Linked DNA regions of Homo sapiens: all the other regions are linked to region 1. Evidence: fine-mapped expression QTL. A gene starts in region 1. Each other region holds a variant in brackets. All regions are shown on one strand. Distances are between the middles of the regions.

What was found.
Region 2: its variant is fine-mapped to the expression of SOX8 in whole blood (TOPMed, PIP 0.99).
Region 3: its variant is fine-mapped to the expression of SOX8 in aorta (GTEx, PIP above 0.99).

What each region holds. Positions count from the first base shown.
Region 1 is chr16:977,328-985,501 of GRCh38, reverse strand. SOX8 (SRY-box transcription factor 8) reads right to left here and starts at 3,732. Exons shown (of 3, transcript NM_014587.5): 1 at 3,158-3,732; 2 at 1,542-1,774; 3 at 1-801. The coding sequence starts at 3,579. The coding sequence ends at 116. It overlaps CEROX1 (cytoplasmic endogenous regulator of oxidative phosphorylation 1), which reads left to right and starts at 3,889. Exons shown (of 3, transcript NR_164343.1): 1 at 3,889-5,901; 2 at 6,392-6,477. It also overlaps a transcript of LMF1 not described here.
Region 2 is chr16:842,096-850,269 of GRCh38, reverse strand. No RefSeq gene overlaps it. Among named protein-coding and RNA genes, the nearest start is that of GNG13, 45 kb to the right of the region's middle. The variant G/A (reference allele first, on the strand shown) is at 4,664.
Region 3 is chr16:1,011,012-1,019,185 of GRCh38, reverse strand. No RefSeq gene overlaps it. Among named protein-coding and RNA genes, the nearest start is that of SOX8, 33 kb to the right of the region's middle. RefSeq lists a silencer at 4,629-4,830. The variant T/C (reference allele first, on the strand shown) is at 4,253.

The sequences.
Region 1 (8,174 bases):
CTTCAGCAGGCACTTGGAGCTCAGCCACTGGGGCCCCTCCCGCCCTGGTCACACACACTGGGCCGGGACAAGGCTGCCCCCTGACGCCTGCGAGTCCCTCCCCGCGGCTGGGCCCTCAGGGCCTGGTCAGGGTGGTGTACACCGGCTGGTCCCAGTGACTGGTGGGGCTGTGGGCGGGCGGCAGGGCCAGGCCGTTGAGCAGGGGTGAGGCGTAGGGCCGGCGCGGCGAGTGGAAGCAGGGGTACTGGTAGAGGCCGGGTGCGTAGCCAGGGTAGGCACCATAGTAGCTGGAGGCCTGCAGGTCGCCATAGTCGCCCTGTGAGCCGGCGAAGGGGCCGGCGGGGGCGGCCGGGGTGGCGCTGGACTGGCCGCTGCAGGAACCGTAGTCGGGCGAGCCTCGGGGCTGGTCGCCGTAGTGGCCGGGGCTCGGCTGCTCCGTCTTGATGTGCGGCCGTGGGGGACCCGTCTCGGTGGGCGACGCGGAGGCCGACGGGGCACTCTTGTGGGCCCACACGGGGGACGCCCCGGCGTGGAAGTAGGCGCCCCCATAGGCCTGGCCCGGCTCGGGTGGGGCGGGGCCGCCCAGGGGCAGGTACTGGTCGAACTCGTGGACGTCGAAGGCGTCCATGGTGCCCATGACCTCGCTGCTGAGCTCCGAGATGTCCACGTTGCTGAAGTCGATGTTCTGGCGCCCGCTGTCCACCGGCCGGCGTCCCTCCAGCTTCAGCTCCGGCTTGGCGCCCGCCTGCTGCAGCTCCGTCTTGGGGGTGGTGGGCGGGGTGGGCGGCCCGTGGGTCTGCCCTGGGGACAGGAGAGCAGGCTTCAGGGATGAATGCCCCTTCTGTGGGGCGGGTGGGGCCGGCCAGGCTGGAAGGGGAGGGACGCCCGCGCTAACTGCCAGGGGGATCAACGGCTTTTTGTTTCTTTACATTTCCCAGAAATTCCAGCAAAGTCAGACCTAGACCTCACTCCTCGGCCGAGAAAATTCCATGAAGCGCTGTGCTATGAGAAGACCCGAGGCCCCTCCCAGAGACCAAGGTGGGGGGAAGAAGCCGACAGGCCCAGCCTGGCCAGAGCTGGGGTTTACAGGGCGCTGGGGGACCACACAGACCCTGTTCCTCCCCGGGCCAGCCAAGCACTCTGAGGCTGGCGGGCGTCAGCCAGCCTGACCGAGGCCCCGGCAGGACTCCACCCTGTCAGTCTGGCCCTGAAGCTGGGGCTGCTGAGTGCCGTGTGGGCAGCAGCTCGGTGTGGGAAGAGGAGCCCGCATTGGACTGAGTCTTGCTGAAAACACCACCTCTCGGGGTCCCTGCCAAGCAAAGCTGTCAGCCCCTCAGCACTCAAGGTGGCTAAGCAGGTCCCTCGTGCACCAAAAACAGGGGCGGCCGGGGCCTTGGGAGCTTTTTCAGGGAACCCGGGGAAGGCCCGGTTCTCTCGAGGGCGCCTGCCCCCCTCCACCATCATGCACCCTTCTCAGCCAGAAACCCCACAGCTGCCTCCCATACAGGGACCCTCAGATATGCGGGGGGCCTGGAGCCCACCTGTGTGGTCGCCATGGTGGTGCCCATCTCCAAGCCCTGCTTCAGCCTTGTACACGGCACCGCCGCCAGGGTGGGGTCCCAGCTCCGCGCCCGAGTCGGAGTCGCTGTGGCCGGCTTTGGCGCTCTTCCTGCGCCGTGGCTGGTACTTGTAGTCGGGGTGGTCCTTCTTGTGCTGCACGCGAAGGCGCTCTGCCTCCTCCACGAAGGGCCGCTTCTCGCTCTCGCTCAGCAAGCTGCAGCACAGGGCAGAGGCAGGGATGGCCAGGGCGCCCACTGTGCCCTCGGCGCAGGCACACACCACAGGGGGAACCGGCAGCAGAGGCCGGGGCCAGGAGGCTCTGACCAGGGAAACCCGCCTGCCGTGCGCTCCGGAGCCTCCCGTGGCACCAGGCAGTACACTCCTCTGGGAGAACCGGCCGGCGCCTGTTTGGGAAGGTTGGTATGCTTACGACAGCCAAAGAAGAACAAGCCCCACGCCTCCCATCTTCCTCCTTCTATTTCCCCCTATTCCGGGCCTGCTGTTCCCTCCCTCTGGGGCTTTCTAAGGGAGGCGGGGGAGGCGGGCAGGACCCAGCCGGCGGTGGACAAAAGCGAGGCTTCCCGGGAACGGTGCCGGCCTTCGGCGGGCAGCTGGGCTGCTGTCCCTCCATTCCCAGACACCCAGAAGCCCTGGCAGGGCCCAGGCGCCCGTCCTCACTGAGCCACAGGACACACTCCTTGGGACTCTTCCCGAGGCTCACCTCCAACCGCCTGTGCGGCAGGACTTGGGGGAGCAGGGGCCTGCCGTCCACAGCGCCCCGTGGCTGCGCCCTAGATCCAGACAGAAGGCAGGAGGTGCAAATACGCAAGCTCCAAGCTCCCTTCTTCCAGGTGAGGAGCAGGATACGGGAACCAGAGCCCCAAACCAAGAGAACCATTTGAAACCCAACCAGAGGACACTCGGTGGGGGCGGCCTGTCCTGAGCAACAAGTTCTTCACTCTGCAGTCCTAATTTCTGGAAAACTGACCGGCCCCACCACGCCAAGGCGTGCACACGGCGCACCCCGTCATCTCCACTCCTGCCCTCCCTGCTTCGGACCGAGGGTGTCCAGGAGAGGGAGAAACTGCGGGGAGGGTACTCGCAGGCAAACCTGCTGCCCACCCATCCGCCTGCCGCACTCCCTCCCCATGGGTGGTCCAGGAGCTAGAGGAGCTGAGCCCTTTCTAAGGAGGGAGCACCTCCAGAGAGCCGCATGCAACTTGCTGTCGTGCCGGGCGTGCCTCCCGGGGCTGGGGCCACTCGCAACGGCTGGAGGGCACGTCGGGGTGCCAGCCATGGCCCTCCGCAGGGTGTTCCCCGCCAGGAGAACTGGCTCCAGAGCGCACCCGCCACGAGGGTGCACACCCCAGGCGCTGCCCTCCGCGGATCCCGACTCCCATAGCTGGCGCCGGACCCCGGCTGGCCAGAGGATGTTTTTCCACTGGGACCCGCCCTGACACCCGCCCGGGGTGCAGAGCCCGGAGCCTGCGTGTGGCCACCACCTCCGCGAGCTCTGCGCCCTCCAGGCCCCCGCTCGCAGTCCGAGACCAGGGGCGGCCAAGGTCCCGAACCCCGCCCCCGGGGCGCCGGCACTCACCGCCACAGCTTGCCCAGCGTCTTGCTGAGCTCGGCGTTGTGCAGGTGCGGGTACTGGTCGGCCAGCTTGCGGCGCGCCGCCTGCGCCCACACCATGAATGCGTTCATGGGCCGCTTCACATGCGGCTTGGCTTTGAGCGCGCCGCCGCCGCCGCCGCGCACCGGCATGGGCACCAGACTCCAGTCGTAGCCCTTGAGCACCTGCGACACGGCGTCGCGGATGCAGGCCGGGAAGCGCTCGTCCGCCGCCTCCGCCGGGTCGCCCCGGGCGCCCCCCACCGCGACCCCCGCGCGGCCCAGGCCCTCGGAGCCGGCGGGAGACGGCGGCGCGTCCGAGTCCGAGTCCTCCACGTGCGACATGGAGCTGGCGGTGCCGGACGGGCTGCAGGGCGGCTGGGAGCGGGCCTCGCTCATGTCCAGCATCGGGGCCGCGCGCGGAGGGGCGCGCACAGGAGACGCGCACCGGGGCCGGCGCCCGGGGCTGCCCTGCGGTCGCTCCGGGACCCGAGGTCGCCGCGCGGTGGCCCCGACCCTCGCCCCTGCCGCCGCCGCCGCCGCCGCCGAGGCTCGGGTCCCGCTGCGGGACCCGCAACAAGTTTCTTTAAGCGGCGGCCCCGCGGCCCCGCCCCGCGCCCGGCTACCCATTGGCGGAGCGCGCCCCGATCCCCCGGAGGCGGAGCCCGGCCGCCCCCGCCCCCCCACCCATAAAGAAAGCTCCGCGGCTCTCGCCGCGCCCCCGCCTGCCCCGCCCGGCGCCGCACCACGTGGGCCAGGCGCCCCACGCCTGGAGCTCCCCTCTCTGGAGCCCCGGGAAAGGAAGCGGGGCAGGGAGGCCGGGTGGGAGCAGGGGGGTCTCCGGCGCTTCCTCTCCTCTGCGGGCGCCGCGCGGCTCCTGAGAGTCCGCCCCCCGTCCTGACGCTCAGCTAGGAAGCGGGTCCTCGGGCCCCTCCCCCGACACACACACACACACACACACACACACACACACACACACACACTCTCTCTCTCTCTCTCTCTCTCTCTCTCTCTCTCTCTCTCTCTCACACACACACACACACACACAGCCCGTCTCGCGCCTGAGGTCTCGCCCGCAGGCCGGTGGCGCGGGGTCAGCTGCTGCCTGCGGTCCAGGACAGGGTCGGTTCCGCCGCGCAGCGCCCAGGCCCAGCTCGTCCAGAGTCTGCGGACAGCGCACGTCCAGGTAACGCGCTTCAAGGGGCCGCGGCTCGGAGCTGGGGGACCCCGGGCCGCCCTGCCCATACGAGTGCGAGCGTGGAGAGCGCGGGCGGGGGCGCGGTCCCGGGGGCCGGCCAGCTGGAGGGGGCGGGAGCGCTGGGCGGGGCCTGCGCTGACCCCGGCGCTGAGTCCCTGGGGCCGCCGGGCGGATGGCGTGGCCGGACGCGGGGGCCCCGGGCCTTCCGGGCGTGACCTAGGGCTCGGGGGCGGGGAGGCCCCTCCGGCGGGGCGGCCCTGGGTGGTCCGGCAGAGGCGGAGGCCGCTCCGAGCCTGTGAGCCCTGGGCGCCTGCGGAGGCGGGGAGAGGGCGGGGTGTGCCGCCCTGGTGGGGACCGCGGGGTCGGAGAGGGGACATTGCCCCCCCCGAGGCGAACGTCCAACCGCGGGTCCGGGTCCCCGCCCAAGGCCGCCCCGCGAGGTGGCCTCGGCCCGGCCGTCCCCGAGGGTGGCTCGGATCCTTTCAACCAGCGCGCTGGAGGCGAAGGGGCTGCGCCATTCCGGGTCAGGCAGCCAACGCGGGACACGCGCGTCTCCGAGCTTGCGGCCCGCGAAACCCGGGTGACCTACCGCGCCGGTGCCCTCAAAGCCCCCACGCCCGGGCCGGTGGCCGCTGCAGCCACTGAGCCACGCGGTCTCCCCGGCCCGGTCGGCAGAAGGAGCTGGTCCGTTACTAGAAAAGTCCAGATGCAAAGTCGGGGGTCGTGCTGCCGCTTCCTGCCAGCGCACCGCACCCACCTGGGGCCGCCACCGACCGCACAGGACGCGCCTCCTACCCCCTGTTCTGGCCCGGCCGAGAGCTGGTGCCCCCAGCGGCCGCCCGCCCCCGTCCGCAGACCCCGGGGCCCTTGCTGCTTTGCATTGGGAACAACCGGAGCCAGGCCCGGAGCTGAGGGGGCCAGGGCCTTTGGAGGAAGCATTGGCCTCCAGGCTGAAGAGCAAGGGCCGTGTCACCTGCCCGGAGGGCGGTCTCATCTCTGCAGCCAGGTCAGAGGAAGCAGCGGTGGGGAGACGGAGTGCGCGAGTTGGGAGGCTCCACGCATCGTAGGTGGAGAGCTGGCTGCCAGCCTGGCCTGCCCTCTCTTCCCCGTCCCACCATCTCGCTTGGCTCCGGCACCTGCCTGGGAAGACCCACACCTCCGTCTGCAGTGCCTCTTCCCCCTGGAGGCCCTGCCCTCCGCTCGGGGTCCCCGCATCCTTCCGTGGCCCTCAGAGCATCGCCTGGGGCGCCCGCGGAACTCATCTGTTAGGCCTGGGATGCAGGCAGGCAGAAGTGGGGGTTTAAGTGGAAGCAGTGAGGGTGGGGGTCCGGTCCAAACTGTGCCACCTTCCACCCCCTGCCCCTGGGAGAGCAGACATCGCCCACTCGGGCTCACAGTGCCATCCGGGTGAGGACCTCCGTGGAGAGCTCTCTTTGCCAAAGAAAAGCAGTTGCATTAGGTCTGCGAGCAGGCAGGGTGGCCTCTTCCTGGCTCCCCATCCACCAAGGAAGCTTCAAGTCCCTGGGACACAGGTGGGGAACTCCAGCACCCCTGGAGGAAGGGAGACTGAGGTTGGGGAGTGGCATCCAGGCCCTGACTCTGGGGCACGGTGGTCTGTGCAACTGAGACCCTGCCTCAGGCTCCAACAGCGCCTGCTCCTTTCCCCAGGTTGCAGTGATCACCAGGGGAGGTGCTGGGCGTGCAGGCTGCCACAGGAGGGGTGGGGAGGTGGGGAGTCTCTGTGGCGGGGTGGTGGGGGCCTAGGCCAGTCAGCTGAGGACGTGTTGGTGCACTCCCGGGAGGGCGGTATGTGGGTGAGGATCCCCATGCAGAGTGGTGCCCACAAACCCCCCTTCCAGAGTCATCTCTGGTCCACCTTGAAGTCCCCAGGAAAATGACCTCGTCCTCCGCGGGTGTGAGCCACTAGGCCTGAGAGGACGCCGGGACGGAGCTTTCAGAGAGGGAGGTGTCGGGATGGCTTGAGGGTCACCAGGTATTAATTAAGCACTTGCTGTGTGCCAGGCACTTTCCCACACAGGATGGAGCCGGGCCACCCTCACAGCTCCTGCCCTGCAGACGCTGGCCTTGTGGAGGGAGGCAGGCAGCAGGTAACTCCAAAAGCACCTCTCAGAGGCGGGGACTTCAGGAAGGATGGTCTGGGAAAGCATCTTTGGTGTCATTTAAGCTGAGCCCTGAAGCTTCTGATCTCCTGCAGGGAGAGGCCAGCGTGTTCCCTGGGGAAGCTAGAGCAGAGTGTCTGATGACAAGAGATGGACCCGGGGGTGGAGAGTGGAGGGGCAGCCATCAGAGCCACCTCTGAGTCCACCTGATGGGCCCATGTCTTCATCCAGGGGGGAGCTGCACACACACCCTCCTCCCCTGTCTCCCATCCCTGCCCCACCCCTTCAGCTGGGGCCTGCTCCGCCGTGTCTGCATGGCCCCACCCACCCTGACCTCACCACCTGCTAGTGGGCCTTGCAGTTTCAGGGGGAGTGTACGTTTCAAGTATACCCTGATGGGGGAATCTGGACCAGGGCTGTCCCCTGGGCCGTGAGTGCCGGGCGTGGAGAGCTGGTGTAGATGACATTTGTAGCTCCACATGCCCTGGCCTGGGCGCCAAGGACAGCCGCAGAGAAGAATGTGGGTGGACAGGCTCTGCTGCCCATGAGATGGTGCAGGGATGGCCTGGGGGATGCTTCCAGATGAGAGACCACCCCACCCTACCCGTGGCTCCTAGGGATGGCGACCCCGGAGGCGCGTGTGTTCATGTGTGTGTGTGGTGTGTGTTTGTATGGTATGTAATGTGTGATATGTGTATGGGATGTATGTATGGGGTGTGTTTATGGTGTGTGTGGTGCGTGTATAGTGTGTATGGTGCGTGTATAGTGCGTATGGTGTGTATGGTGTGTGGTGTGTATGTGTATGATGTGTGTGATGTATGTGTGTGGGGTGCGTGTATGGTGTGTGGTGTGTGTGTGTGTGTATGATGTATGTGTGTGGTGTGGTGTGTGTATGGTGTGTGGTGTGTGTGTGTCCGTGTGTGTTTGGTGTGGTGTATGTGTGCAGGGTGTGGGTGTGTTTGTGTGTGTGTGATGTGTGGTGTGCGTGTGTATGATGTGTGTGTGTGGTGTGTGTGTGTGCGTGTATGTGTGTGGTGGGGTGTGTGTATGGTGTGTGGTGTGTGTGCGTGTGTATGATGTATGTGTGTGGTATGTGTGTGGTGTGTGTGTTTAGTGTGTGGTGTATGTGTGCAGGGTGTGGGTGTGTTTGTGATGTGTGGTGTGCATGTGTATGGTGTGTGTGTGTGTGTGGTGTGTGTTGGGCCCAGGGCACGAGGAGGAAGCAGGGCTGCCCAGGGAAATGCCACCCTGGAGAGGCCCCTGTCCCTCCCTCTCCGTCCTTCCCTGTGCCCCTCCGTCCCTCCCTGCCCGTCCTCCCCGTCCCCCTCCATCCACCCCCAACCCGGCCCTCCTCCTGCGGCAGGCAGCCCATCTTTTGTGCGGCCTCTGAGAAGCACAGGGAGGGCCCGGCGGGCGTGAACCCGCTGGCAGCCGGTGTGTGCACAGCCTTGGCCCGGGCCTCCCAGCCCCTGCATCCCGAGCACCCGTGGGGCAGTTGGCAGCGTCCTGGCACGGCCTGGGAGATTAATTGGTGCTTTTAATGACGGCTGGTCTGGCAGAGACAGAGTGACTACAGGCTGGGCCGGCGCAGGCTGTGAGCAGAGGCTGGGAAAGGCCCCGCCCCCGGACGGGTCTCCAGGGGAGAGGAGGGGTTCGCAGGACCCCTCTCAAGACCCCCTTCGGGA
Region 2 (8,174 bases), 140 kb after region 1:
ACCTTCTGACAACAACGACCCAAGAAATCGTCCCACACGCAGCCAGGTACCTTCCAACGAGGACAACCAGGTGTCTTCCGACAAGAACAACCAGGCACCTTCCAACGAGAACAACCAGGTACCTTCCGATGAGAATGACCCAAGAAATTGTCCCACACGTGGCCTGGTACCTTCCGACAAAGGCTCTGAGACCATTCAATGGGAAGAGGACAGCCTTTTCAGCAAATGGTACTGGGAAAGCTTTATCTCCACATGCAAAATAATGAATGAAGCTGGCCCCTTACCTAACAGCATACACAAAAATTAACCCAAAAAACATAGGATGAAACACCTAAATGTAAGAGCTAAAACTGTAAGACTCAGAATAAAACCTGGGAAAATCTTAAGGACATTGGATTTGGCAGTGTTTTCTTGGATATGACAACAACAGCACCGGCAACAACACAGAAAATAAATTGGACTTCATCAAAATTTGACATTTCTGGCCGGGTACAGTGGCTCACACCTGTAATCCCAGCACTTTGGGAGGCCAAGGCAGGCGGATCACCTGAAGTCAGGAGTTTGAGACCAGCCTGGCCAACATAGTGAAACCCCGTCTGTGCCAAAAATACAAAAATTAGCCTGGCGTGGCAGGCACCTGTAGTCCCAGCTACTCGGGAGGCTGAGGCAGAAGAATCGCTTGAACCCGGGAGGCAGATGTTGCAGTGAGCTGAGACCGTACCACTGCACTCCAGCCTGGGCAATAGAGTAATATTCTGTCTTTAAAAAAAAAAACTGTGGCTATAAGTGAGACTGCAGAGCTGCCCCGGGCTGCTGTCTGTGGAAGCCCTGCCCTGCGGGAGCAGCCACAGCTGTAACCCCACCTCTGAAGTAAAGCTGTTTCCTTCCACCTCTGGCTCGACCTTGAATTCTTTCCTGGGCAAAGCCAAGAACCCTCTGGGACTAAGCTCCTCTTTCGGGCTCGTCTGCCATGCATCAGAATGATGTGGCCACGTGGAGACTGTCTGGGGGTTCCTCGAAATGTTCAGTGTAGACGGATGACCACATGACCCCGCAACTCCACGTCTGCACGTAGACCCGGGAGAGCTAGAAACGGCGACCACGTGACCCCGCAACTCCACGTCTGCACGGAGACCCGGGAGAGCTAGAAACGGGGACCACGTGACCCCGCAACTCCACGTCTGCACGTAGACCTGGGAGAGCTAGAAACGGGAACCACGTGACCCCGCAACTCCACATCTGCATGTAGACCCGGGAGAGCGGGAAACGGGGACCTGGGTGTGCTTGCACCGGAACGTTTGCAGCAGCCCAGAGGTGGGGACAGCCCAGATGAACAGACCAGGTGTGCTCACCCATGAGCATTACGCAGCCGCAAAGAGGAGCGAGGCCCCGACGCTCAGATGAGCCTTGAGAACCTGATGCCCAGTGAACCCGCCAGACACAGAGGGCACCGGTCCTGCGATGCCGTCTCTGGAATGTCCAGAACAGGGAAACCCACAGAGACGCTGGGCAGGGAGAAGGTGGACGGCTCTCGGGGCTGCTGGCAGGAACAGGGAGAGCGGGCATGACGGCTCACAGGTCCAGAAGGTTCTCTGGCGGGTGATGAAAATATCTGGAATTAGGCAGAGATGCTGGTTGTGCGTGTGGCCAATGTGTTACGTGCACCACACTGCTGACCTTTAAGTGGTTAATTTTATGTAAATGTCAACTTCACCTCAATGTTTTGAAATACAGCAAAGCAAAGCAGAGTGTCTTAAGCGTCCTGAGACCCTGGGCCTCCCTGCCTCAGGGCCCAGACCCTCACCCTGCCAGAAGGTCCAGTGGGGCTCAGGATGCCGGGCAGGGAACGCGCTTCACTCCTTCTCTGTGGCGTGCATGGGGCTGGAGCCGCTTAAGACCAAGGCTCAGTGCACCTGGATGCTGGTTAACCCGAAAGTGCCGTACGGAGCCACCAGTGGTCCCACAAGCTCTGATGATGGCCGCAGTCACGGACATGCAAACTTTGATTCACTGAGGACCACGCGAGCAAATGACAGGTGATGCCGGCAATTCTCAGCCCACTGCTGCCTGGATAGCTTGCCCCTTACGCCGCGAGCCAGGCTGCCCACCCAGCCCACACCCGGGCCCACCTGGCGCTTAGCAAATGGCCTTCCCACATCACGCTGGTGGCTTTCCGCACCACCCAGTGTTCACCTGGGCTCCCACACACCAGCAGGAGGCAGCAAGCAGGCACCTCCCTCCCATCTTGCTCCAAGCGCTGTGTGCGGGAGGGATGGAAACCTCCAGGCGCTGGGAAGAAGCACCCCAGGCACTAGGCAGGGGAAGGCTGGGGGGCCTCCGTGCCCACCCCCAGGTCTGAGCGCATTGGGGAACCCGGGGCACCGGGAGGGTTTGCGGACAGTGCCACCCTCCCTGCAGGGCTGCGGCCACCTTACTTTGCCTGGGCCGCCTGGCCAGGGGCCGCAGCTGACCCGCTGAGTCTGGGTTGGTGGCTCACCGTTCTAGGGTTTACACCTGACCCAGTGTGATCTATACCTGCCCAGGTCATACCACACTGTCCAAACTGTTACAGCTTTCAAACCAGCCCTGGACTGGCCGTCATAGCCGCCTTGATTGTCGTTGGCCCATTGCTGGAAGCAAGTTGGCGAAAGCTTCCGTCAGCTCTGACGGTTGGTGTGCAGACAGATGGCGGGCCGCAACATCCTTTCCTCCCCTCCCTGAGCCTCTTTTTCTCTTGGGTGGCAGGTGGGGCCATCTCCTCTGCCTCATCTTTTTCCTAACCTGGAAGTTGTTCCTTAAACACCTGCCCACGGTGGGCTACTGTGAAGCCCTTCACCCGCAGCCATGTGGACATGCTGGAGGAACATCAACAGACTCTCATCTGAACAACAAAAAAGAGGAAAGAACACTCAGCAAAGGAAAGAAGAGGCACTGAGCCAGGTCAGCACCCCGGGCCGCTGGGAGAAGGTACCTAGTCCAGATGATATGGGACACACAGGGGTTTACAGGAAACCGCGACACATTACAGACACGGGACACACACGGGTTTACAGGAAACCGGGACACATTACAGACACGGGACACACACAGCTTTACAGGAAACCAGGACCCATTACAGACACGGGACACACACGGGTTACAGGAAACCGGGACACATTACAGACACGGGACACACACGGGTTACAGGAAACCGGGACCCATTACAGACACGGGACACACACGGGTTACAGGAAACCGGGACACATTACAGACACGGGACACACACGGGTTACAGGAAACCGGGACCCATTACAGACACGGGACACACACGGGTTACAGGAAACCGGGACGCATTACAGACACGGGACACACACGGGTTACAGGAAACCGGGACGCATTACAGACACGGGACACACACGGGTTACAGGAAACCGCGACACATTACAGACACGGGACACACACGGGTTTACAGGAAACCGGGTCACATTACATACACGGGACACACACGGGTTACAGGAAACCGGGACCCATTACAGACACGGGACATACACGGGTTACAGGAAACCGGGACCCATTACAGACACGGGACACACACGGGTTTACAGGAAACCAGGACCCATTACAGACACGGGACACACACGGGTTACAGGAAACCGGGACGCATTACAGACACGGGACACACACGGGTTACAGGAAACCGGGACGCATTACAGACACGGGACATACGTGGGTTTACAGGAAACCGGGATCCATTACAGAACAACGTCAGTGAACCCCAAGCTGCAATGATCTAGCAAAAAGGTGAGAAAATACAAATAGCCAATATCAAGAAGAAAAGATATCACCACAAATCCACAGAGATGCTACAGGAATAATAAGGTAATATTATGAACAACTTTATTCTAATCAACTCAGCACCCTACATTAAATGAGAAACACTCCGTGAAAGGCACAGATTACTAAAACGAACGCTAGCCCAAACCCTAATCCTCTCCCTACAGCCGACGAAGAAAGAAAGCCCAAGAGTCCCATAATAATTGAAGAAACTGAATTTGGGCCGGGCGCAGTGGCTCACGCCTGTCATCCCAGCATTTTAGGAGGCCCAGGCAGGTGGATCACCTGAGGACAGGAGTTTGAGACCAGCCTGGCCAACATGGTGAAATCCCGTCTCTACCAAAAATACAAAAACTAGCCCCCATGATGGTGCACACCTGTAATCCCAGGTACTCGGGAGGCTGTGGCAGGAGAATCACTTGGACCCGGGAAGCAGAGGTTGCAGTGAGCGGAGATCGCACCATTGCACTCTAGCCTCGGTGACAGAGTGAGGCTCCATCTCAAAAAAAGAAAAAAGAAATTGAATTTGTAATTTAAAATTTTCCACAAAGAAAACTTGAGGCCAAGATGTGTTCACTGGCGAGTTCCATGCAATACTCGGTAGAGAAATAACACTGCCCTATCCAAGCTCTTCCAGAAAATGGAGGAGGAGAAGCCTCATACGCCCACCAGGACGGGAGGAGGCAGCCACTCTGGAGAAGTGTCAGTTCTGGAAACATGAAGCGTGAACTTCCTCAGGAAGCAGCCACTCCACTCCTAGGTATCTGCCCGAGAGACATGAAAGCACAAGGACGTGTAAGCAGCGTTTATAGCGGGTTGATTTACTGCAGCCAGGACCCGGGGTGGTGCC[G/A]GTGTCCGTCAGCAGGAGGACGGGTGAACCGGGTCATCTTGGAGCCATCGTCCTCAGAAACAGGCACATCCGGCTGTTGATACGCACAGCGTCGGACCCTCCAAGGCACCACGCTCAGCTAAAGAACACAGACGAAAGAGCTCACAGGGCGCAGCTCCACTCGCGGAACTGCAGGGAGGACCGCGGCCCAACTCCAGTGACAGACGCAGGCCCATGTTGCCGGGGCCGGAACGCAGGGAGATCTGGGAGAGGAATGTTCTGAATCTCAGCTGTGGTGCCGGGTGCCCTTGTCAGAAACCGTCGGTTACATTTAAATGGGTGCATTTTGTGTTTGGAAATCATGCCCGGCTCTCTGGATAAAGCCCTGATTTATGTGGTTTTGAATTTCTGTGATCTAAACACCGTGCCCGCCCCCATCTCCGATTCAAGCCCCCAACACGTCCTCACTCAGCACGGAGCTGGGCAGACGTGCACGACCGGCTCCCACCTGCTGGCACGAGCCCACCTCACCTTGGGGAGTTGATTTGTAAAATGAAATGAGCACAGAAACGTGTCAGCGCCAGGCTGGACCCAGCGAGCCGCCGATGCCAGCGAGATGCCAGGCTGGACTCAGCAAGCCGCCGATGCCAGCCAGACGCAGAGCAGAGAACGCTGGTCAAAGAGCAGCTAGGCGGTGTCTGCTCGGCCGAAGCCCAGTCCCGGAGAGGCAGGCTCTGTACCAGGACGTGGAGGCTCCGGGGTCATGAAACCCCCAGGGTGAGAGACAAAGGTAGTGAGTGGCCGTCCAGGGCAGAGGGGACGGAGGCAGCACGCGGACGGAGCCTCCGCACAGAGCGTCACGGCCACGACTGGAAAGCTCAGACACGTGTCACGAGCCCACAGCCCAGGTCAGAGGCGGCAGGATGGCGGGCGGCCCCATGCACAGAACTGCGGCCACGTGTGGAAGGCGACGGACACTGGCGGCACAGGGTCTACTGTGCTCTGGACCTGGTGGTGGCCACGCTGATGTTCACCCGTGGACATGTTGGAGCTCGCTGTCCACTGTGTGTGCTGCTTTGCGTGAGTTCCAATCCACGCGGAAACTATTATGATCAGAAAATCTCTCTAACTGTGGCGTGTGAGAGCCTCCAGTTCCGGGTGTTGTGCTGTTGTTTTGAGACGGAGTCTCACTCTGTCACCCAGGCTGGAGTGCAGTGGCGCCATCTGGGCTCACCACAGCCTCCGCCTCCCGGGTTCAAGTGATTCTCCTGTCACAGCCTCCAGAGTAGCTGGGAATACAGGCGCCCGCCACCACGCCCGGCTAATTTTTGTATTTTTAGTAGAGATGGGGTTTCACCATGTTGGCCAGGCTGGTCTCAAACTCATGATCTAGTAATCCACCTGCCTCGGCCTCCCAAAGTGGTAGGATTACAGGCGTGAGCCACTACGCCCGGCCTGGGCTGCACTTCTGAGTCCCTGAAGCTTCCACTGTGTTTATTATGAAGAGCTGAGCTGCGGTTTGTCCTCTAACATGTGTGCTAAGGAAGCGGGAGGAGACCCGGCTCCGGGCGGGGCCATTGTGGCTCCTGGCCTCTCTGCCTCTTCCATCCTATTTTGTTTCTGCTGATGGTCGACCCCGGGCAGCCTGAGCACAGCCACCCCGCCCCCCTGCATCCAGGTCACCGTGTCCCGAGCACAGCCGCCCCCCTGCATCCAGGTCACCGTGTCCACCCAGTGATGTGCTTCCCAGGCCGGACTTTTCTAAACTCAGCCTCTGAACCCACCACAGGCCGGACACACGGCGCCTTCCCCCAGCCCCACGGCTTCGAGAGCGCCCTGGCGAGTGCCTGTCCAGGAAACCTTGTTTTTTGTTTTTTTTTTTTGCGACGGAGTATCGCTCTGTCGCCCAGGCTGGAGTGCAGTGGCGCGATCTCGGCTCACTGCAAGCTCCACCTCCCAGGTTCACGCCATTCTCCTGCCTCAGCTTCCGGGGTAGCTGGGACTACAGGCGCCCGCCACCACACCCAGCTAATTTTTTGTACTTTTAGTAGAGACGGGGTTTCACCGTGTTAGCCAGGATGCTCTCAATCTCCTGACCTCATGATCCACCCACCTCGGCCTCCCAAAGTGCTGGGACTACAGGCGTGAGCCACCACGCCCGGCCCCAGGACACCTCGTTTTAAGGGCAGTGAAAGCCAGGAAAGCCACGGCCAGCAAGACCCAGCAAGACCCAGCAAGGCCCACGCCACCCTTGCTCCTGTCGAGGGGCCGGCGCCCGTTTGTCCTCAGGGAAGGTGGTCTTCGCCGCTGGCTCTGGTCAGGGCTGCATCTGGGCCACCAGGATGTTCAGTGCCAGCCCTGCAGCTGCGGGGCCTTCTGTGGTGGGCACGCATTTGCATCTCAATGACCCTGATTAATATTTAAGGAGCCAGCTGTCTGAGACACACGAAAAAAAGGGTGAAAAAAGCGCCTTGTTCCCTTAAAGGGCGGGCTCCAGGCTCTCCATCAGGTGGCCTCGTCTCCCCACACGATGTCCACACTCACAGTTCTTCTCCATGCAAAAGATACGCGGCATCATCAGCCAGATCAGGACCCGTGTCCCCTCCAGGGCCGGCCCCATTGTGTGCCGCACAGCTGCAGGCTGCAGCCCCAGCCCGTCTGCCTGCCCTGCCCTTTCACAGCCCTGTCTGGTGGAGGTGGATGGCACAGCCCACAGCTGTGCACAGGACACAGCTCAGGGGGTGCCCCAGCCAACGCACCCCCGGCCCAGGGGCATCCCCCACTCGGTCACTGTCACCCCAGCCAGGGGCCTCCCCAGCCACCCGCCCATCTGTCCACGGTGCCTTTGGGGCAGGCGTGGCCAGTCCTGCCCTTCCTGTTGTCTGACCCCTCACTGGGTGTCAGCTCCCCCGAGGAGGGTCTGAGGGTCGGCCTTGACCCCAGGACAATGGGCTGAATGCTGTCTCCCTAAATTCACGGCCACCCGGAATCTCAGAACGGGACCTATTTGGAACTAGGGTCTCTGCAGTTGTGATTAAGGGGAAGGCCTTGAGATCAGGTCATCCTGGATTGAGGATGGCCCAGACCCAGTGACGGCTTCGTAAAGCCAGGGACGATGATACACAGCAAGGGAACAAGGCTGCGTGAACACGGAGACAGAGTGATCCACCCACCCTGGGGCGTCCAGCCGCCGGGAACCAGAAGGGGCAGGAAGCATCGTCACCCGGAGCCTCCAGAGAACACATCTCCAAGACACCGAGACTCACTTCCGCAGAGCTGGGAGGGGACACCTCACCGTTGCCTGGAGACACAACACAGCCCTGGGTTGCTGCAGGCCCAGGAGACGGGGGCCCCAGCAGGAGTAGGAGGCGGCGCCTGCAGGCCCAGGAGCCCCACAGACCCGGGTCCAACCGAGAGGAGCACGTGGAGGCCCCTCCTCAGTCAACCGCCCCACCACCCCCTCAGCCTCCTGCGGCAGCGCTACCCGAGGCCCAGGGTCAGGTCCCGAAGCCCAGGTCAGAACCCACAGCCC
Region 3 (8,174 bases), 34 kb before region 1:
GGGCTTCCAGCCCTGTGGTCTCGCTGCTCACTGTTCCTGCAACCTGGGGCTGGGCTCCAAAAGGAGGAGGGGAACACACCCCCAATGTGAGGGGGGCTGGGGGCCCCACCCCCGAACCAGACTGAATGTGGGGCGAGGTCCCCACCCCACATTTCAAAGGACCAGGCTCCTCCATCAGGAAGTCCTCCCTGACTGCCTCAATCTTCCTGAGCTCCCCTGACACCTAACGCTGGGCACACTCTTCCCACCACACCTGTGCCTGCCCATGCCCACATCCACGCATGTGTGTCTGCACCCACCCAGCTCACCAAGGGCCTGGGCTCCATCCACGCATGTGTGTCTGCACTCACCCAGCTCACCAAGGGCCTGGGCTCCATCCACACATGTGTGTCTGCACCCACCCAGCTCACCAAGGGCCTGGGATCCATACCAAATGTGTTCAGCCACATAGAAATGAATAAAGGCCAGGCACAGTGGCTCACACCGGTAATCCCAGCACATTGGGAGGCCAAGGCACGGTTGTTTGAGCCCAGGAGTTTGAGACCAACCTGGGCAACATAGCGAGACCCCATCACTACAAGAAATACAAACATTAGCCGGGTGTGGTGGCGTGCACCTGGAGCCCTGACTACCCAGGTGGCTGGGGCAGGAGGATGGCTGAGCCCAGGGAGGTTGGGGCTGCAGAGAGCGGTGATGACGCCACCGCACTCTAGCTGGGGGAGTGACAAAGGGAGACCCTGTCTCAAAAAAAGAAAATAAATAAGGACACCAAAAGCAACAAAAGGCACACAAAATGTAGAGAGATATTTGAAGTTAAAGACTTTTTGTGTCTCACAGGCCACCATCGAGAAAGTAAAAAGACAACCCACCAAATGGGGGGAATATTTGCAAGTCATTTATCTGATAAGGGGATATATAATATCCATAATACATCAAGAGCCCTTACAAGTCAACAATAAAGGCCGGTTGCGGTGGCTCACACCTGTCATCCCAGCTCTTTGGGAGGCCGAGGCTGGTGGATCACCTGAGGTCAGGAGTTTGAGACCAGCCCGGCCAACGTGGCGAAACCCCATCTGTACTAAAAATATAAAAATTAGCCGGGCGTGGCGGCGGGCATCTGTAATCCCAGCTACTCGAGAGGCTGGGGCAGGAGAATTGCTTGAACCAGGTAGGTGGAGGCTGCAGTGAGCTGAGATGGTGCCATTGCACTCCAGCCTGGGCAACAAGAGCGAAACTCTGTCTCAAAAAAAGAAAAAAGGAAAAAAGAAAAAAAATAAAATAAAAAGACAAATCACCTAATTTAAAATAGCAAAGGATCGAAACAGACATTTCTCAAAGAAGATACACCTGTGGCCAACAAGCACGTGAAAAGATGCTCCGTGTCACCAGCCACCCGGGAAACCCAAATCAAAGCCACGATGAGAGGCCACCTCACACCCATGAGGATGCTTATGTCAGGAAAACCAGGCTGTAGGTGTTGGTGAGGATGCGGAGAAACAAGTCTTCACGCACTGCTGGCAGGAATGGAGAATGAGGCAGCCAGTTTGGAAAACAATTTAATGGTTCCTCAAAAGTCGGAACCTAGAATTAGCACATGACCTGGCAATTCCGTTCCTAGCCATCTACCCAAGATAACTGAAAATATATGTCCACACACACATTTGTATATGGATGTTCATAGTACTATTCACAATAGCCAAAAAAAAAAAAAAAATGAAAGCCACCCAAACATCCACTAACAATTGAATGGATAGATGGGGGACAGTTCACCCACGCAGCGGAACACTAGCCTCACAGAGGAAAGAGATTCTGACCCTTGCTACCGGATGGATGAACCTTAAAAACATGAGTTCAGTGGGAGAAGCCAGACACAAAAGGCCCCGCATCGTGTGATCCCATTTATGTGAAATGTCTTGAATAGGCAAACCTGCAGCGACAGAAAACAGATTGGTGTTTGTCTAGGGCTGAGGGAATCAGGAGTGGGAGGATCCGGAAATACTGATGTCTAAAGGTTGAGTGATTTCTTTCTTTGTTTTTATTTTTTATGATTTTTTTTTTATTTTGAGACGGAGTCTCGCTCTGTCGCCCAGGCTGGAGTGCAGTGGCGCAATCTCGGCTCACTGCAAGCTCCGCCTCCCGGGTTCACTCCATTCTCCTGCCTCAGCCTCCCCAGTAGCTGGGACTACAGGCACCCGCCACCACGCCCAGCTAATTTTTTGTGTGTTTTTAGTAGAGACGGGGTTTCACTGCGTTAGCCAGGATGGTCTCATGATCCGCCCGCCTCGGCCTCCCAAAGTGCTGGGATAACAGGCGTGAGTCACCGTGCCTGGCCAAGGTTAGGTGATTTCTTTTGGGAGGTGATAAAATGTTCTAAAACGGATCATGCTTAGTTCGCACCACATGCTGGCATCCAAACATCTCATGTGCCCCATAAATATATATACCTACTGTGTATCCACAAAAATTAAAAATGAAATAAAATCGATGGTGATAATGGTTACACAATTCCAGCACATTTAGTGGGCGTGCTAAAATCATTGAGCCGTCCATTTTAAAATGGTGACTCTTATGTGAATTATGTCTGAGAAATAAAATTATGAAAAAATTAATAAAGAGCAAACAAGGAAAGAAAAAAAATGCCAAAGAAACTACAAAGTTCAGAGAGTGCCCAGAACCCTAAAGAGGCAGCCAGTGCCAGGGTGGGTCACACTCCACACAGAGCTTCCCGGCGGGCAAAGCAAAGATGGAAACACCCGCAGTATGGGGGGCTGTGGGGTACCATTTGTGGACGATTCACTCCGCTGAGTGTGCCCAGGTGTTTGTCAGGTGTCAACTTGGCTAATCCCAACAAGGTCCGGGCAGGAGGAGGGCTATGTAGATGGGGAAACTGAGGCAGGCCCAAGGTCACCAGTTGATACACGGCAGAAGCCAGACCAGCACCTCAGTGGTTGGGATTGGAGCCTTTGCTCCCAACCCTGTGAGGCCTCCCCACCTCGCCCACCTGCCTGCTTCAGGGTCTTATTCCCTAGAAGGCAGATGTCACCCCCGCAGGATGTCACCCCCTGCAGGGGCCACCACATGCCCCCTCTTTCCAACCCAGGGCCCTCTGCAGCCGGTTCTTTCTTTCTTTTTTTTTTTTTTGAGACAGATTCTCGCTCTGTTGCCCAGACTGGAGTGCAGTGGTGTGATCTTGGCTCACTGTCACCTCCACCTCCTGGTTTCAATATTCTCCTGCTTCAGCCTCCCGAGTAGCTGAGATTACAGGCACCTACCACCACGCCTGGCTAATTTTTGTATTTTTAGTAGAGACAGGGTTTCACCATGTTGGCCAGGCTGGTCTCGGACTCCCGACCTCAGGTGATCCACCCGCCTCGGCCTCCCAAAGTGCTGGGATTACAGGCTTGAGCCACCGCGCCTGGCCTGCAGCCTGCTCTTAAGTTCAAGGAGACGCCACTGTGGGTGACCTATCAGACCAGGCCTGCAGAGCTTGGGGAGAGGATTCAGGGATCATTGCAGCAGGAAGCTGGCCCTTTCCAACAACCACCACGACTAAAGTCTGAAAAATATTTGAAGCCACAAGGATTTTATGAACACGAGGGCCAGGAATGGGTCTGGGCGCTTGTTGGTGCCCTGGCTGGAGAGACCCCAGTCTCCCATGAAGGCTGTATAGAGCAGAAGCACGCGACCTGTGGGTCTGGGCACACGGCTGTCTCTCTGAGGCCAGCTGCTGGAGGAGGCCTGTCCCTGGGTGGACATCAGCAGGAGGAGTGGGCTTCAAGTGACCACAGTTCCCAGGGCCAGCCCCGCACGGAGGCCCCTCAGACCCACAGCTCAAAGCAGAAGGGCCCGGGGTCCTCAGCCAAGACCCCTGCTCCCAGGACGGCTGCGCCCACCCCTGTGAGTGCAGCTCCGCCCTGTCCACCGCCCTGTCCGCCTCTTGTCGGCTCTTCTGGAAACCTCTGCAGTGGACTCGACACAATCCTGAAACACCAGCATCCCCGGGGCCTGCAGGAATGTGCTCCTGCCGGGTGAGCTGGCTTAGACTGGGCGACAAGAGTTCTGTGTGTGTGTGTGCGTGTGTGTGTCTGGGGGTGGGACTGAGGCCTGGGGACTATCTCAGCAGTGCTGGGGCTCTAGGGATCCATGGGAAACAGTGGGCTGAGTGTGCTCTATGTTCTGCTGCAGGCTCTGAGGGCTACAGGCCTTGCCTACCCTGGCATGAGCTGCTGGCCTGCCCTCTGCTCTGAGCAGA[T/C]GTGGGGGTGGGTGGCATCTGGCCACGGAGAGTGGGCCAGGCCCAACACACGCAGCCCAGACCTCTGTCCCGGGGCAGCCTCCCAGGAGGAGCCACCTCCAGCCCTCGCCACGTCACCTCCGGCGTCAGGACTGGCCAGGCCACATCCTCTCCAGACCTGGCCGTCCTTCGCTGCAACCTCGGAGAAGCCACTCTCCTCCTCACCGGCAGCACCTGCCCTGGGGACCCCTTCGTCCCACTCACCTCCAGCCTGGCTGGGACAGGGAGACGACTCTGGGCCAGGGGAACTGGCCCTCCCGGCACAGGCCCTGCTCAGGGCTGGGAGGGAGGCATGGCTCTGTTCTCCCTTTGGTGAACAAGGAAGCCGGCCTCGGGCACTGAGTCCTCCAGCAGGGCAGGCTGGCCAGACAGATGGGCAGGTGGACCCATGGAGGCCACAGCCCCCACTGTAGGAGGCCCCCTCGGCCAGCATCAGAGAACAAGTCCACCCCACTCCACGGACTGGAAGACCGAGACTCACAGGGGCCCGGGGCCACCCCTCAGAAGCCCACACACAGAGCCCAGCCCCACAGACACAGCTCACCCACTCAGCTCACAGGACTGAGCCTAGGATGGGCAGAGGGGACCTGGAAACCCACCCCAGCCCCAGCCCCGCCAACACCTCCTACCTGGAGGCTGCAACGAGAACTGTCAGGGCAGGAGGGGGGCTGCAGGCGCTGGGGCCGTAAATCAGGGCTCCCAGCAACCCCCAGGCCTGGAGGAATTCCAGGCCCCTCCACCGTTTCCTCCCAGCCAGAAGGGGTGTCCTGGGCCCACAACTCGGCTCCCTCCCCGTAGTGGGTACAGAGTGGATCATGAGCTTTCCTGGGCGAGGTCCCCTAAACCAATTCTCTCTCCCCTCTCCTCTCAGCCATCCCAGCTACAGGGAGGACACCGAGGCCAGGAAGGGGGGCGCGTCCATTGCCCCCCAGCTGCATGACGCAGAGTTGGACCCACGTCCAGGGCATGCCTCCGGGTGCAGCTGCTCTAAGCCCAGAGCACTGTGGCCTCTGGAGCACCACCAGTCTCCACAGCCCACTGGCCTGCCCCTGGGTCACCCCAGGCCCCGCCCAGGCCCCCTGGCAGCCTCTGCCTGCCCAAGATCCGCCACCACCCTCCACAGCACCGTGGCCTCCGGAGCACGGTCCGATGCAGGTGGAGGAGGCGCTCCCAGCCCTGGCAGCTACAGCCCCTCCCCAGCCACCAGCCTGGGCCAGGAGCTCCTGTCAAGAGCTGGACACCTGTCCTGGGTTGGTCCTGCCTCACCCAGCGCCCAGCCAGCTCCTCCTCAATGCCACCAGCCCAGCCCAGGACAGAGCTGAGCAAGCAGATGCTCAGGACCAGCCGGAGGGGCCACTTAGGCGGGCAGAACGCAGGGGCCAAGGAGCACCACAGGAAGATCCCAGCCCCGCTGGCGATGGGCACCTGCGTGCAGGCAGAGGGCAGCACATGGAACAGCAACACAGGCCTGCAACAGGACGCAGTGAGGGGGCGCAGGGCTGCACAGTGGTACACGTGTGTGTCCTGTGTGTGCACATGTGTGTCCTGTGTGTGCATGGGTGTGTCCTCCATGTGCACGGGTGTGTCCTGGGTGTGCACTCGTGTGTCCTGGGTGTGCACGTGTGTGTCCTATGTGTGCACTCGTGTGTCCTGGGTGCACACACGTGTGTCCTGTGTGTGCACGTGTCCTGGGTGTGCGTGCATGTGTCCTGGGTGTGCACGCATGTGTCCTGGGTGTGCACACGTGTGTCCTGCGTGTGCGCATGTGTGTCCTGGGTGTGCATCTGACTGGGGGCACCTGTGGGTTTCATCCCCCACCCCAGCCTGCCCCCAGGTCACACCAGGCTCTCCAGGCCCCCAACAGCCTCTGCCCACCTGAGGCCAAGCAACCCCGCAGGTGTCCTGCCCTGCTTACTCCCAGACCAGCCCCACCTCTGCAACCACCCCCCGGGGTCTCAGCCAACAGGAGGTTCCAGTCCCACAAGTTTCAGGAACCACCTGCGGCCAGTATGGGGCTGAGGGTTGGACCCTCGGCCTCACCCTGTCAGGCGCCCCCGCCTGCTCTTTGACATGGGGAGGGCACACAGGTGGGGGCACAGCCCGGTGAGTCCTCCGGACCCTGGGCAGAGGGGCAGGATGCAGGGGCAGAATGCTGACCCCCATCAGCAGCCACCAGGATGGTGTCCTGAGCCTGAGGGTCCCAGGCTCTCATGGCCCTTCCCCGTGCTCCACAGCACTCCAGCCGCCTGCCTAGTCCATGTGGGTCCCAGAGGAGCTGCTGGGCTCTGGAATCATCTTGGGAAAGGCAGGCAGAGGCTGGCCGAGGGTGGGGTAATTCCTGCCTTCCTGGGAATGGGGACAGCCTCAGGGGAGCCCTGGAGATGGATTTTCCCCGATTTACCCAGCTCCCCAGCTCCTCCCAGCAAGATGCTGGGGTGTGGGCTGCTGTGAGACTCCCCATCCCGCGGACCCTGCCTGCCTGCCTTCAGGGTCCCCTGAGTGTTACTAAACAGAGGGGCAAAGCGTGGCCCCCAACGCCCTGAAAGGGAGCCCGCGCTGCGGCCCCAGTGCGGAATCAGGTGCTCAGATCGTTCTGCCGGAGCCTCCACGTCTCTTCCAATGTGCACAGGAAGGGACCCCGGCAGTGTCTCAAACCTGCCATGGGGAGTCTCCTTTCAAAGTAGACTCGAAGCTGAGGGTGACTTGGAAGAATATCGGGCGGACAGGACCACGGTGGCCCGAGGTCCTGCGGGCAGGCTGAGTGTTGGCCGGAGGTAATTCGGGCCTGAAGGTCTCTGTCCCTCCTGCACTGAGCTGTGTGCTGCCCTCTGGGTGGGGCAGCAAGGAAGAGGCGCCCCTGTCGCCCGGGTGCTCCTGCTCACACCAGGGAAAGGGGCAGAGACAGAGAGGGCCCCTCTGTGGTCTGACCCCACCGGAGGAGATGGTCTCCTGGACGCCAAGGCAGGCCACACACGACGTCTGCTTCCTCGGGGGTCTGTGGCCTTCCACCTGACCGCCAGGCACATTCCCGGTCACTCTGCTTTCTGCTCCCCCGTTTGTCTCTCTGCCCTGGGAGAGTCGGGGCAGCTGCAGCCCTTGTGGGACCAGAGCAGGGCTGAGGCACGGTGCGGAGACAGGCAGGGGACGCCTGCCATAGTGGAGTGAGGGTCGCCGAGGCCAGCTGCTGCAGGAAGGGAATGCCGGCTCTGAGTACCACCAATGGCACAGCTGAAAACTGCAGCGATGTCCTCTCCCGCAGCCTGGAGACAGGCCTAAAATCGAGGTGTGAGCAGAGCTGTGCTCCCTCCGGAAGCCCCAGGTGAGGGTCCTTCCCGCCTCTTCCAGCTTCTGGGCCCCTGGCCGCTCTGCCCTGCATCTCTGCCCTGCCGCTCTGCCCTGTGTCTCTGCCCTGCCGCTCTGCCCTACGTCTCTGCCCTGCCGCTTTGCCCTGCGTCTCTGCCCTGCCGCTTTGCCCTGCGTCTCTGCCCTGCCGCTTTGCCCTGCGTCTCTGCCCTGCCGCTTTGCCCTGCGTCTCTGCCCTGCCGCTTTGCCCTGCGTCTCTGCCCTGTGTCTCTGCCCTGCGTCTCTGCCCTGCGTCTCTGCCCTGGCCGCTCTACGCTGTGTCTCTGCCCTGCATCTCTGCCCTGGCCGCTCTGCGCTGCGTCTCTGTCCTACGTCTCTGCCCTGGCCGCTCTGCGCTGTGTCTCTGCCCTATGTCTCTGCCCTGCGTCTCTGCCCTGTGTCTCCTCTGTCTCCCTCCAGGGAGGCTTGCCCGGGCGGGGCTGCTCCTGCCTGCTGGACCAAGCCCCGCACCCACAGCCCTGAACTGCTCACTGCCGGCGCTCCTGGGACCACCCTGGAACCCAGCCTAGGACGCACTCAG